Linked DNA regions of Homo sapiens: all the other regions are linked to region 1. The links come from fine-mapping of genetic effects on gene expression. A gene starts in region 1. Each other region holds a variant in brackets. All regions are shown on one strand. Distances are from middle to middle. Region 1 holds the start of OXSR1 (oxidative stress responsive kinase 1). Region 2 overlaps SLC22A14 (solute carrier family 22 member 14). Region 3 overlaps DLEC1 (DLEC1 cilia and flagella associated protein).

Evidence for each region. PIP is the estimated chance that this variant, and not a neighbour inherited with it, causes the effect. A credible set is the group of variants that fine-mapping cannot tell apart.
Region 2: its variant is the best candidate, but not a certain one, in a credible set for the expression of OXSR1 in whole blood (INTERVAL, PIP 0.77).
Region 3: its variant is the best candidate, but not a certain one, in a credible set for the expression of OXSR1 in whole blood (INTERVAL, PIP 0.89).

Annotation. Positions count from the first base shown.
Region 1 is chr3:38,163,833-38,168,025 of GRCh38, forward strand. OXSR1 (oxidative stress responsive kinase 1) reads left to right here and starts at 1,705. Exons shown (of 18, transcript NM_005109.3): 1 at 1,705-2,114. The coding sequence starts at 2,045. It overlaps LOC101928234 (a long non-coding RNA gene), which reads right to left and starts at 1,644. Exons shown (of 5, transcript XR_940733.2): 1 at 1,565-1,644. RefSeq lists enhancers at 380-1,579, 740-819, 970-1,099, 1,370-1,469, 1,863-2,478 and silencers at 1,710-2,099, 2,150-2,199.
Region 2 is chr3:38,302,976-38,307,168 of GRCh38, forward strand. It overlaps SLC22A14 (solute carrier family 22 member 14), which reads left to right. Exons shown (of 11, transcript NM_001320033.2): 2 at 3,052-3,567. The coding sequence starts at 3,052. It also overlaps the pseudogene RNU6-235P. Among named protein-coding and RNA genes, the nearest start is that of SLC22A14, 23 kb to the left of the region's middle. The variant T/C (reference allele first, on the strand shown) is at 2,313.
Region 3 is chr3:38,053,874-38,058,066 of GRCh38, forward strand. All of the region lies in intron 2 of DLEC1 (DLEC1 cilia and flagella associated protein), which reads left to right. Among named protein-coding and RNA genes, the nearest start is that of DLEC1, 17 kb to the left of the region's middle. RefSeq lists enhancers at 1,488-1,567, 1,598-1,647. The variant G/T (reference allele first, on the strand shown) is at 1,726.

The DNA.
Region 1 (4,193 bases):
AGTTCAGTCCTTAGCTCCCCATTCTCTGAGGTCTATGTGCCAGCAGATCCATTTGGTGGGGGTCTGGGTTTCTAAAAAACAACTCAGGGACATGTGTTGATGTTATCTTTAGTTTTTATAGGGAACCAAACATCCAGTTATTTTAGTTTCTTTGGCTAATGTTTAAAGTTATTACTGCCCTCTTGCTTATCAAGGGGTTCATTAACTTTTCAAGGCTAGCTAAGTGCCGGGAATTTCTCTTGAAGTAACTCAAGATTTTCCTTTATTTCCATGGTTGAGGGCCTGCAGGCCCTAAAAGGGGTCCCTGCTCCGTCTCAGCTGGGCCTAGGTGAAGGTCTCTTCCTTTTTCTGAGACGGTGTCTCCGTCTGTTGCCCAGACTGGAGTGCAGTGGCATGCTCTCGGGTCACTGCAACCTTCGCCTCCTGCTTCAGCCTCCCTAGTAGCTGGGATTACAGGCGCCAGCCACCACGCCCAGCGATTTTTCTGTATTTTAGTAGAGAGGGAGTTTCACCATGTTGGTCAGGATGGTCTCGAACTCCTGACCTCAGGTGGTCCGCCCGCCTCCGCCTCCCAAAGTGTTGGGATTACAGGCGTGAGCCACCGCACCCGGCCTAAGGTCTCTTCCTTAAAGACTGCCGTTGGACTGAAAGGTGTCCAACCTAGAACAGTTTCGCACCTAGCCCTATCCCTGTTGGATGCTCATTATTTTTTAAAATCCAATTTACCAAGCGTGTTCAGTCTTCAGCTCGCTAATTTCTCTAACGGCCGTACGTAGTCAAACTGAGAAAACTGTTCAGTGGGGGCGACAAAAGCCAACGCCCGTGAGACAACCCCCAAATCCGTGGGTCGATCTCACTTGTTTAATACCCCAAGCCCTGTCCGGGGGGAAGAAAGACAACCTCCCGAGTCCCTCAAGGCAGGTGCTTATTTGAGCTTCAGATCTAAAGCTGCGAATGGACAGAACCCGCCCAGTGCAGGGTGGACCCGCGAGAGACAGCGCCGCGACAAGCGTTAGAGAGAACGTCCGCCTTGAAAAAAATGTCACCAGGCAAACTTCCAGTTTCACTCCGACCAGTGGCCCAAGGCCTTTTATCCTAGTTGGCAGTGGTCCACACCCAAAGGCTACCCCACCCAGCCGCTCCCTCAGGGTTTCTCCACACCCTGTAGAGCCTTTCGCACGTCTCGAGGGTGTGACGGTTACGCCGTGACGTCACTCCAGAGGAAGTGGTAAGACGAGCGCGGTAACGGAGCTCTTGAAGGGCTGCAGCCCTAACACGGAGAAGCGCGCTAAGAGCCTGGAGGCGGGACCAATTTATGACTGACGTCTACCCACACCCATTGCTTTTCTGATTCCTTCTCAAACAAACCAATGAATGCGACGACGGAGACAGCAGCGTGCCCCAGGCGCTAGAAGTGGCTCTGCCCCTTCTACTTTGCTGCCCTTTGGTCGCCATGCTTAGTGTGGCTACTGCCTCTGTGCTACTTGAGGCTCTCCTACGGCTTTTCGATGCCTTCGATGAACCTCTACCTAAGCACTTCTTCCCTTTCACCGCGAACTCCTACCTTCTCGGGTTTCTAGCTTGCTCACTTTACATCCAGCCACACTGGAGATGGCGGCCGGAGGCGGGCCCGAGGTGGGGCGTGACCAGCGCAGTGACGTCAGCGCGCTGCGTGTCGGCAGGTGGAGGAAGAGGGGAAAGTTTGGCCCGTGCGTGGGGCTGGGGTGGAGGGCGGGACAGAGGGGCTGGGCCCAGGCAAAGCTTCTGTCGCTGCTGCTGCGGAGGCCGAGGACAGGACGTGGGCTGGGCCGGGCAGTGCCGGACTCGGAGGAGCAGGAGGCGAGGTCCGCCGGAGCTCTGAGCCCCCGCTGCTCTGCCGCGCGGTGACCCCGCGCCCCGGCGCCGTCCGACCCGTGGCTGTTCCGAGACGATTGGTGGGGGCGCGGCGGCGGCGGCGGCGGCTGTTGGGGGTGGGGAGACGCGCGGCGAGGAGACGAGCGAGGTCAGCGAGTTTGAGGGAGGACCGCGAGCCGCTGCCGCCGTCATGTCCGAGGACTCGAGCGCCCTGCCCTGGTCCATCAACAGGGACGATTACGAGCTGCAGGAGGTGATCGGTGAGAGCAGGCGCTGCGGAGGGGGGAGGCGCGGCGCTGGGAGGCGGGGGACACGGGAACGTGGGGAGCCGCGGGAGCTCGGGGAGCGCAGCCCTCATAGGAATTCGTGGGGCGCTTGTGGGGCTGGGGGCTTGTAGGACGCTTGTGTCGAGGAGCGCGTGTGAGACGGGAAGGGGGTTTTGAGGCGCGCGCCTGTGAGGTGGCGTGGGGTGGGGTGAGGCTTGAGGGGGCTCAGGAGAGATTTGTGTACAGGATTCTCAAATGTGTGGACAGGAGCGGCCCATGTGTCTTGTAGAGAAAGAAAGTGCAGGTGTGGGACAGGCCTTTCCGAGGCTGTGTGAGAAATGGGATCTTGAAGTGGGCACAGCCATCGATTTCTGGGATTGTGGGATAGATAGGGAGCTTTAAGTTTTTCCTCCATCCGTGCTGGGGCGAACTGGGGATCCTCCAGGTGAAGCTGCAGGAACCGCGCTGAGCAACCGAGACCCAACTTACGACTCCTTCCAACTGACTTTCCAGTCGGGGAGGTAGACATTAAATAAGAAGACAAAAAGAAGTAAGAAGGGCTGGGCGTGGTGGCTCACGCCTGTAATCCCACCACTTTGGGAGGCCGAGGCGGGCGGATCACGAGGTCGGGGGTTCGAGACCAGCCTGGCCAATATGGTGAAACCCCGTCTCTACTAAAAATACAAAAATTAGTTGGGTGTGGTGGTGCGCGCCTGTAATCCCAGCTACTCGGGAGGCTGAGGCAGAAGAATCCTTGAACCCGGGAGGCGGAGCTTGCAGTGAGCTGAGATCGCGCCACTGCACTCCAGCCTGGGCGACAAACCCTGACTCTGACTCAAAAAAAAAAAAAAAAAAAAAAAAATTTGAAGAGGCTTTGGCAAGTGCCATGAAGGAGATAAACAAGATGTTCTGATAGAGAATAACCTGGAGATCTACTTAGGGTGATTTCAAGGAAAATTCTTTTTCTGAGGCGATAACATTTCAGTTGAGCCCTGAAGCATGAGAAGTGAGGATTAAGAGCCTCGGGAAGATTTTTCCTTACAGAGGGATATAGAGATGCAGTGGCCTTGAGTAAGGGAAGAGCTTGATTTGTTTTAGGACCTGAAGGAAGGCTGGCAAGGATAGAGAGGGAAGGGAGGAGCCAGATCTTAGGGATCTTCTCAGCTTTGGTACAGATTTTGGAATTTTAAGTATCACTGGAGGCCCTCAAATAGTGCCTTGACGTGATCCGATAAATTGGGCTGGTGTGTGAAAAGATTTGAAGGGGGTCCAGGAATACCAGTTGGCAGAGACCAAAACTTGCACATAGATTGTAATTCTCACAGAAGCCTAGGGATTGGGAGGAGGCTGGGGACTGGGGATGAGGGGAGTATTTGTTGGACAACAATAACCCAGTGACCTTGGAAATCAAAATGTTTAGCTATACAGGCTCAATCCAACGGACATGAGCAGACACCTGTGTATTGGAGGAAGGCGAATTATCTGCTTTGCCAGCATCCTGCCCTAAAATTAGTTTTATAACAAAGACCAACTGAAGACTTCCTAGCTGCCTTGGGGGTGTCAGTGTTTATTTCACTGTGGGTTTAAAAAGAACTTCGTGAAATAATTTTTGTTTTTACTTGCCTCTTGTTTTAAGACAATCTGGGCTTAAAGCAATATTGGTTCGTATAGGAAAAACAAAAACAAAACAAAACAACTCGGACTAAATAAAGACATCACATCTTTGCTTAAGCCACTTCATGGGCCTGTGTCCTTGCTACATATTGGGTCTTTGACATGTATTCGTTGGTTCTAAAGACAGCTAGTTCCCGGTCTGGACTGATTGCTTCTGGTTCCCCCAGTCAGAGTTTCATATTGAAGGAAAGGATTAAATGGAAGATTCCAAAATGATGTCAGAGAAGTAAAGAGGAGGTTCCCTATCATCATTTTAAAAGAAGAGTTTTTTTTTTTTTTTTCTGGTAGTGTATCCATCTTTCTAGGGTGAAGAGGATGGTTGTAGTCATTCTCAAAGCCTTTGCTGTTAAGGTGGCAGAGAATTTCAGAGTTGCAAAGGCGCTAGAGATTTCGTGATTT
Region 2 (4,193 bases), 140 kb after region 1:
TTGTTTTAGAAATTTAATTCACCTAAGTTTTTAAATTCATTGGCATAAAGTTGATGTTAGTATCCAGTTAATATTTTCAGTCTTGCTATATCTGTATATTCCTTTTTGCATATATAAAAGACTTATTTGTATCTTCTTTTTTATTTTATTTTTTACATAATTTCACTAAAGATTTGTCTATCTTATTAATCTATTCAAGGAACTAATTTTGAACTTTGTTGATTCCCTTTCTTATACTTTTGTTTCTAGTTCCTTAATTTTTGTCTTAACTTTACTACGTTCTTCCTTTACTTTCTTTAGATTTATTCTTTTGTGTTTTTTCCCACTTCTTATGATGGTTGTTTAGTTGATTAATTTTCAGTCTTTCTGATTTTCTGTTATAAAGCACTTAAAGCTATAAACTTGCCACAAGTACCACTTTTTATACCACCCATATGTTTTGATATGTTATGGTTCTTACTGTCACTTATTTGTAAATATTTTTAAACTCCCACCATGATTTCTTCTTTAACTTGTATTCACAAGTTTTTTTTTTAACTTAAAAACATATGGAGTTATCTCTATCTCTATCATCTCTATCTCTATCTTCATTCTATCCTCGTGGGTTAGAAGACTCAATATTGTTGTTAAGATATAAATTCTTCTCCACTATAGATTCAATACAATCTCAATGATTGTATTTATTTAATACAATCAATATTTGAATTTGCTTACATTTTTCCCATTTTTACCACTCATTATTACATCTCCAGCTGTCCTCCAGAGATCATTTTCCTTCTTATCTTTCATTTATTTATTTAAATATGGAACACTTTACAAATTTGTGTGTCATCCTTGTGCAGAGGTCATGCTAATCTTCTCTATATCGTTCCAATTTTAGTATATGTGCTACCGAAGCCAGCACCCTTCTTATCTTTTAAAAGTTCAATCAGGCCGGGCGCGGTGGCTCACGCCTGTAATCCTAGCACTTTGGGAGGCTGAGGTGGGCGGATCATGAGGTCAGGAGATCAAGACCATCCTGGCCAACACGGTGAAACCCCATCTCTACTAAAAAAAATACAAAAAATTAGCCGGGCGTGGTGGCGGGCACCTGTAGTCCCACCTACTTGGGAGGCTGAGGCAGGAGAATGGCGTGAACCTGGGAGGCAGAGCTTGCAGTGAGCCGAGATCACACTACTGCACTCCAGCCTGGATGACAGAGCGAGACTCTGTCTCAAAAAAAAAAAAAAAGTTCAATCAAATCAGGTCTCTTACTGTGTGTTCTCTCAATTTCTTGTTATCTCTATAATTACCTTTATTTTACCCTAGTTCTTGACAGACAATTTTGCTGGGTATACAATTCTATGTGGTCTATAATTTTCCATCCACATTTTGAAAATATTCTTCGCTCTCCTGGTTTCCGTGTTGCTTAACTTTCATCTTCTTTTTTTGAGACAGGGTCTTGCTCTGTTACCCAGGCTGGAGTGCGGTGGCGTGATCATGGCTCACTGCAGCCTCGACCTCCCTGGCTCAGGTGATCCTCCCACCTCAGCCTCCCGAGTAGCTGAGACTACAGGCACATGCCACCAAGCCTGGCTAAATTTTTTTGAATTTTCTTGTAAAGACAGGGTTTCACTATGTTGCCTAGGCTGGTCTTGAACCCCTGGGCTCAAGTGATCTACCTGCCTGCACCTGCTTCTAACAGGAGACTGCTGAGGCTCTTCATTAGTCAGTGGCCTGCCTTCTCTCCAGCTGATTTTCAAGATCTTTTCTTTGTCATTGGTGTCCTGCAGCTTCATTGCAATGTGTCTAGCCATGGTTTTCTTTTTTATTTATCGTGCCTAAGTTACATTTCCTGGATCTAAGAATTTGTTTTAAAAGTTTTAGAAAACGTATTGTTTTTATTTCGTCTCCATTTCTCCTTGTGGGCTTCCAATTTGATACATGTTAAATCTTCTATCTACCAAGTCTCTTTACCTCTCTCTCACATTTCAGCAATTTATTCCAGTTCACTGATTCTTTGTGTCAAATTTGTTTAACTTTCCTCTTAGTGTTTTTATCTCAACAACAACAACTTGCCGTTCAACAAGCTTTCATTTTTAAAAGTTCATAATCTTCCTTCCAAAAGTGTCTGCTTTTTCCTGATTGTTGTTTTAAGTTCATTTTCGTAATTACAACCTTTAAATCCTTAAAAAGTTCATACAATAGCTGTTCTAAATTTTGTATCTGACAGTTTCAACATCTGCAGTCTAAAAGTCTGTGGTTTCTGGATTCTGTCGACTTGTAGAGTGGCTTGCCTTCTCAAGCTATAATCTCTTTGCTTGATGTACCTC[T/C]GTGAGAGTCTTGCAGAATCAACTTGAAGAAATTTTCCTTTAGAGAAGGCTCGCTTCTGCCTCTGCTCTGAGCCAAGGGGTGCCCCGCACCAGGAACTGTTACCCCTTCTGAGAGTTTTGGCTCAAAACAGAGTTTTAAGCTTAGTTTCCCCTCCTTGCTGCTGTTGCAAGGTAATATGCTGACAGTCAGTACTGCTCACCTTCCTCCTTCCCCACTCCTGCCTTTCCAGTTTGGCTCCATGCTGCACTGCCTCACCACTGCACCAGCCTTGGTGCCCCATCTCTGTGGCCCAGGCTTCCAGCCTCCCACCTTGGGCCCACCTCCTGGCTACAGCCGACGATGCAGATCTTTGTTTGTTTTTGAAGAAAAGGTCCCTAGAGACCTCTCCTACCTTTTGCAAGACCACTGGTGTCTCAGTGTGTGTGTAAACAAAAAGCTTGAGTTGTGGGGAAGTTGTAGGAGAGTTCCTAAGAACTTAGTCCTTCATGACAACAGAAGCACAGCATTTTCTAAAACATTAAAAATCTCAATTACACTAAAACTCCAGGATGGTTGGGCCAGGGGGGAATAAATCATGTTAACTAAGAAAGCAAGGGAGGGAACTACTGAGAACGTCAAGGTTGGAATCCATATTGCTTCAAGCCAGAGGCCAGTTCCTAGTCGGTGGCTCCCATGCTGGTCTCTGATGTTTAGGAAGTGGTGTCAGCAGAGACTGAGCTGCACCCTTTCTTTGGACAGATGGCAGGAGAGGAGAACTTCAAGGAAGAGCTCAGATCCCAGGATGCTTCCAGGAACTTGAACCAGCATGAGGTAGCAGGACATCCACATTCCTGGTCTCTGGAGATGCTGTTACGCAGATTGAGGGCTGTCCACACCAAGCAGGATGACAAGTTTGCCAACCTCCTGGATGCGGTGGGGGAGTTTGGCACATTCCAGCAGAGGCTAGTAGCCCTCACCTTTATCCCCAGCATCATGTCGGCCTTCTTCATGTTTGCTGACCACTTCGTGTTCACAGCCCAGAAGCCCTATTGCAATACCAGCTGGATCCTGGCAGTGGGCCCCCACCTGTCCAAAGCTGAGCAGCTGAATCTGACCATACCCCAAGCACCCAATGGCAGTTTCCTGACATGCTTCATGTACCTTCCTGTGCCTTGGAATCTGGATTCTATCATCCAGTTTGGCCTCAATGACACAGACACATGCCAAGATGGGTGGATCTATCCTGACGCTAAGAAGCGATCGCTGATCAATGAGGTATGTCTTGTCATGGGTTGTCTGTAACTACCCTACAGGCTCAGAGTTGTGCCTCCCACCCTCACTGAATGGGTGGGGAAACCGAAGCTCAGAGATGGGAAGCCATTGGCCTGAGGTCAACCTGCAGAGGCAGGGTCTGGGCAGAAAATTAGATTCCTGTTGCCCAGCCCTGGCCCTGCCTATCTATAGAGTACATTTGGGGTAGAGATGGGTGCTGCATGGCAGGGTTTTCCATCTGTCCAAGAAATCGCTCCTGTAGTTGTGGTTCTGACCTCAGAACTCACAAAAAATAGGGCTCGGGGAAAGAAGCAGCTTTGATCAGGCATCTCTTACGGGGCTTCCCAACCCGAGCTGCAATCTAGGCCCTTTACAACACAGACCGCCCTAGCATGAATCTGCAGGTTGGGCCTAGCACCTGCCTTTGGGAAAGGGTCTGCACTGATTCCTGCCTTTGCTCAGCTACCCCCTACCCCACACACACATCTTGGCCTATGCCTCTGGTCACTCTCTCCAGGCCCAGCTCTCAGGGTGGAGCAGGTGCCAGAGGGGTTGCAGAGGTAACAGAGCAGAGGCAACAGCTGAGGCACGCTGCACACTGTTAACTGCCCCTACCCCAGGTCCCCTTG
Region 3 (4,193 bases), 110 kb before region 1:
GTGTTAATCTATAACCTTACCCCCAACCCCGTGCTCTCTGAAACATGTGCTGTTTCCACTCAGGGTTAAATGGATTAAGGGCGGTGCAAGATGTGCTTTGTTAAACAGATGCTTGAAGGCAGCATGCTCCTTAAGAGTCATCACCACTCCCTAATCTCAAGTACCCAGGGACACAAACACTGCGGAAGGCCGCAGGGTCCTCTGCCTAGGAAAACCAGAGACCCTTGTTCACTTGTTTATCTGCTGACCTTCCCTCCACTATTGTCCTATGACCCTGCCAAATCCCCCTCTCCGAGAAACACCCAAGAATGATCAATAAATACTAAAAAAAAAAACAAAACAAAAAAACAAACAAACAAACAAAAACAAAAACAAGGGTTTGAAGTTTGTGTTGGTGGCAGCTGCGTGATCTGGAAAAGCTCACACTGAGGAGCTCTCCTGCCTCCATGAGGGCAGCGTGCAGGCGCCTGGAGGCACTGACGTTTTTCTGGGTCTGACTTCTACTCTGTTTACAGACTAATCTGCTAGCCTACAGTGTTTCACAGATGTTGACTGAAGACATGAGGTTCCTGGGTCCTTGGAGCACAGCAAGCAGCATGAGCCTCTTGCTGGCACAGGTTTCCCAGGGGGTGACACAAGGGGCCCAGGCAGATGCTATGCAAGCAGTGGGGCTGATGTCATGGCCGATGCATGCTGAGGTTGGAGAACTCACTGCTTTTTCAGTGGACAGTCAACAAACCTGCACTTTGACTAGAAGAAACATGACCTCATTCCTCTAGACCACTTGCTGTAAGCACAGCCCTGAGAAGTGGCCCAGGTTAAAAGAATGGTGTTCTTTGCAAACTTAGTGAGAACATGCATGGTGGGTGGCTGCTCCCAGCACACCCAGGTCTCTCTGGATTTCCCCAGATTAAAACCAGCTAAACATGAGCTCACAGGTAAAATTACCAAGCACATATGGGAAAAGCCACCACGAGTAAGTCAGCAGAACCACAGCGGAACTGAACCTCAGAGAACCCAGCCTTTGACATCCTAAATTAAACTAAGAATGCTTGAGATATTTACAGACTAAAGGAAGGAAACAGCCTGAACCAGGAGCCACAAGACCACTAAAATGACCTGGCAGACTGGAGAGGAATCAAAGAGAACGTCTGGAAATGACAAGTACAATAGATGAAACTGTGGGTTTAACAACAGGCCCATTTTGGCTAGAGATTTTGAATTAGTAGATGGAAAGGAAAATCAGAAGAAATGCAGACTAGAGAGCCAAAGAGATAGAAAACATGAAACATAAGAAGTGTGGAGGTCAGGATGAGGCACAGCACACATTTAAACAGAGAAGTGTGGGGACATGAGGCTTAAAGTGACAGTGGCCAGGAATTTTCTGTAAGTTATGAAAGCCTGAATACACAGAAGCAGGAAGCACAGAAATCCACATCCATATCATCATGAAACTGCAGGACACCAAGTGCAAAGAGAAGATCTTAAATGCAGCCAAGGAAAAAGCACAAATTACAGAGAGCAGATGCTGAGACTGAGAGTAGACTTTATAGCAGCCACAGTGGGAGCCGGAAGCCATGTGATACAGTGAGTGTGACTTGGGACTCTTCACCATCAGCTTAGAATCAGGCATTGAAATAGATGGTTGTTCAAGAATCTGCTTATGGTAAAGGCATTTCCAGATGGGAAACAGAATTTATCACAACAGGAAACTCAGGAGAGTGA[G/T]ACTCAAGGAACTCACTGAAGAACGTACTTCCAGCAGAAGGAGAGTGGTCCTGGAGAAAGGGTGTGATTCTGAGATAGGCAGATGAACAGAGCAGTCAGTGAAGACGTGAGCAACGGAAAGCAACGTGGACTCTAAAGCTCTGTTAACTGGGTGACCCTGGTTATCTGGGTTGCGGGGAGAAAAATTAGAGCCCTCACCAACACCACACAGCAAATAAGCTCTGAATGTTTTAAAGCCTAGAAGACGCTATGGGAGAGCATCTTCATGGCTCTGGAGATGAAAGGCCTTCTTTAACAAGGTCCTAAATGCCCAGTGAAGGAAAACATTAAGAAATTCAGGCTGATCGTGCTGGCTCAAGCCTGTAATCCCAGCACTTCGGGAGACCGAGTTGGGTGGATCACTTGAGCCCAGGAGTTTGAGACCAGCCTGGGCAAAATGGTGAAATCTGATCTCTACAAAAAATACACACACACACACACACACACACACACACACACACACACACACACACACACACAAATAGCTGAGTGTGGTGGCATGCGCCTCCCAGCTACTTGGGAGGCTGAGATGGGAGGATCACCTGAGCTAGGGAGGTGGAGGTTGCAATAAGCTGAGATCGTGCCATCACACTCCAGCCTGGGTGATAGAATGAGACCCTGTCTCAAAAAAAAACAATACTGTAGTTAAATTTAGTGGTTTTTGGTTTTTTGGTTTTGTTTTTGTTTTTTGAGACAGAGTCTTGCTGTGTTGCCCAGGCTGGAGTGTAGTGGCTCAATCTAGATCCACTGCAACCTCTCTCTCCTGGGTTCAAGTGATTCTCCTGCCTCAGCCTCCTGAGTAGCTGGGATTACAGGCATGTGCCACGAGGCCTGGCTGATTTTTGTATTTTTAATAGAGATGGGGTTTTACCATGTTGGCCAGGCTGGTCTTGAACTCTTGACCTCAAGTGATCTGCCCACCTCGGCCTCCCAAAGTGCTGGGATTACAGGCGTGAGCCACCATGCCCGGCCAACTACATTAAATTTTAAACTTCTTTATTTTGAAATAAAAAGTAAAAACAGGCTGCTCTGCCTATGGAGTAGCCATTCTTTTATTCCTTTACTTTGTTAATAAACTAGCTTTCATCTTAAAAAAAAAGTGAAAACAAAATCCACAAAAGCAAATATAACGAACAGATTCAGTATCCAAAATATGTAAAGAATTAGGAGTCAACAAGAAGGTGGCAAACAGCTCACTTAGGAAAGAGCAAAAACCATGACTGGGAATTTGCAGAAATGGAAAAATAAATAAAAATGCTCATTCTTAGTGATCAGCAAATTAGAGCCAGAGGGATGTCCTTTCACACCCATCAGAATGATGATGATGATGTCAGGGAAAGGAATGAAGGCCAGTGGGCGAGACCACTGCCTTTTTGTGGGCCTCCTTGGTGGCAGCAAGTCCAGTTGGGAGCTTCTTGTATGTACAGACAAGAAAATGTATTCAGAAGCTTGAAATAGCAAACACCTGGAGACAGCTCAGGGGTGCATCATTAGGGGAATGGATAGGTAGGTTGTTGTCTATCATATGCTAAAAAGCAGTAAGAATCAATTATTTGAACTACATGGATCACAGCTGGGCACAGTGGCTCACGCCTGTAATCCCAGTACTTTGGGAGGCCAAGGCGGGCAGATCACCTGAGGTCAGGAGTTTGAGACCAGCCTGGCCAACATGGTGAAACCCCGTCTCTACTAAAAATACAAAACATTAGCTGGGCGTGGTGGCACGAGCCTGTAGTCCCAGCTACTCAGGCAGCTGAGGTAGGAGAAGCGCTTGAACCCAGGAAGCAGAAGTTGCAGTGAGCTGAGATCATGCCACTGCACTCCAGCCTGGATGACAGAGCGAGACTGTGTCTCAAAAAAAAAAAGAACTACATGGATCACATAGGTGGATCTCACAAAGATAAAGATAATCCGCAAAGAAAGAAAATTCAGGCGGAACACATACAGTGTGATGACATTTGACATGTTATATTTAAGGCATGCAGAAGTTTTATTTGTTTTTAAGAATCTGTAACTATTCAAAAATATAAACGTGCATGGGGATGATACATACGTACTCTAGTGAGTGATTTCCCCAGCTGGGGACAGGATTGGAGATGATCTTTCTAGAGTGGGACATGGTGGAGGTTAACTGTCTTAGCAATGACTTATGGGTACTTGGATACTCACTGTATTATTCCTTTTTTTTTTTTTTTTTGAGACAGAGTCTCGCTCTGTTGCCCAGGCTGGAGTGCAGTGGCGCAATCTCGGCTCACTGCAAACTCCACCTCCTGGGTTCACGCCATTCTCCTGCCTCAGCCTCCTGAGTAGCTGGGACTATAGGCGCCCGCCACCACACCTGGCTAATTTTTGTATTTTCAGTAGAGACGGGGTTTCACCGTGGTCTCGATCTCCTGACCTCGTGATCCGCCTGCCTCAGCCTCCCAAAG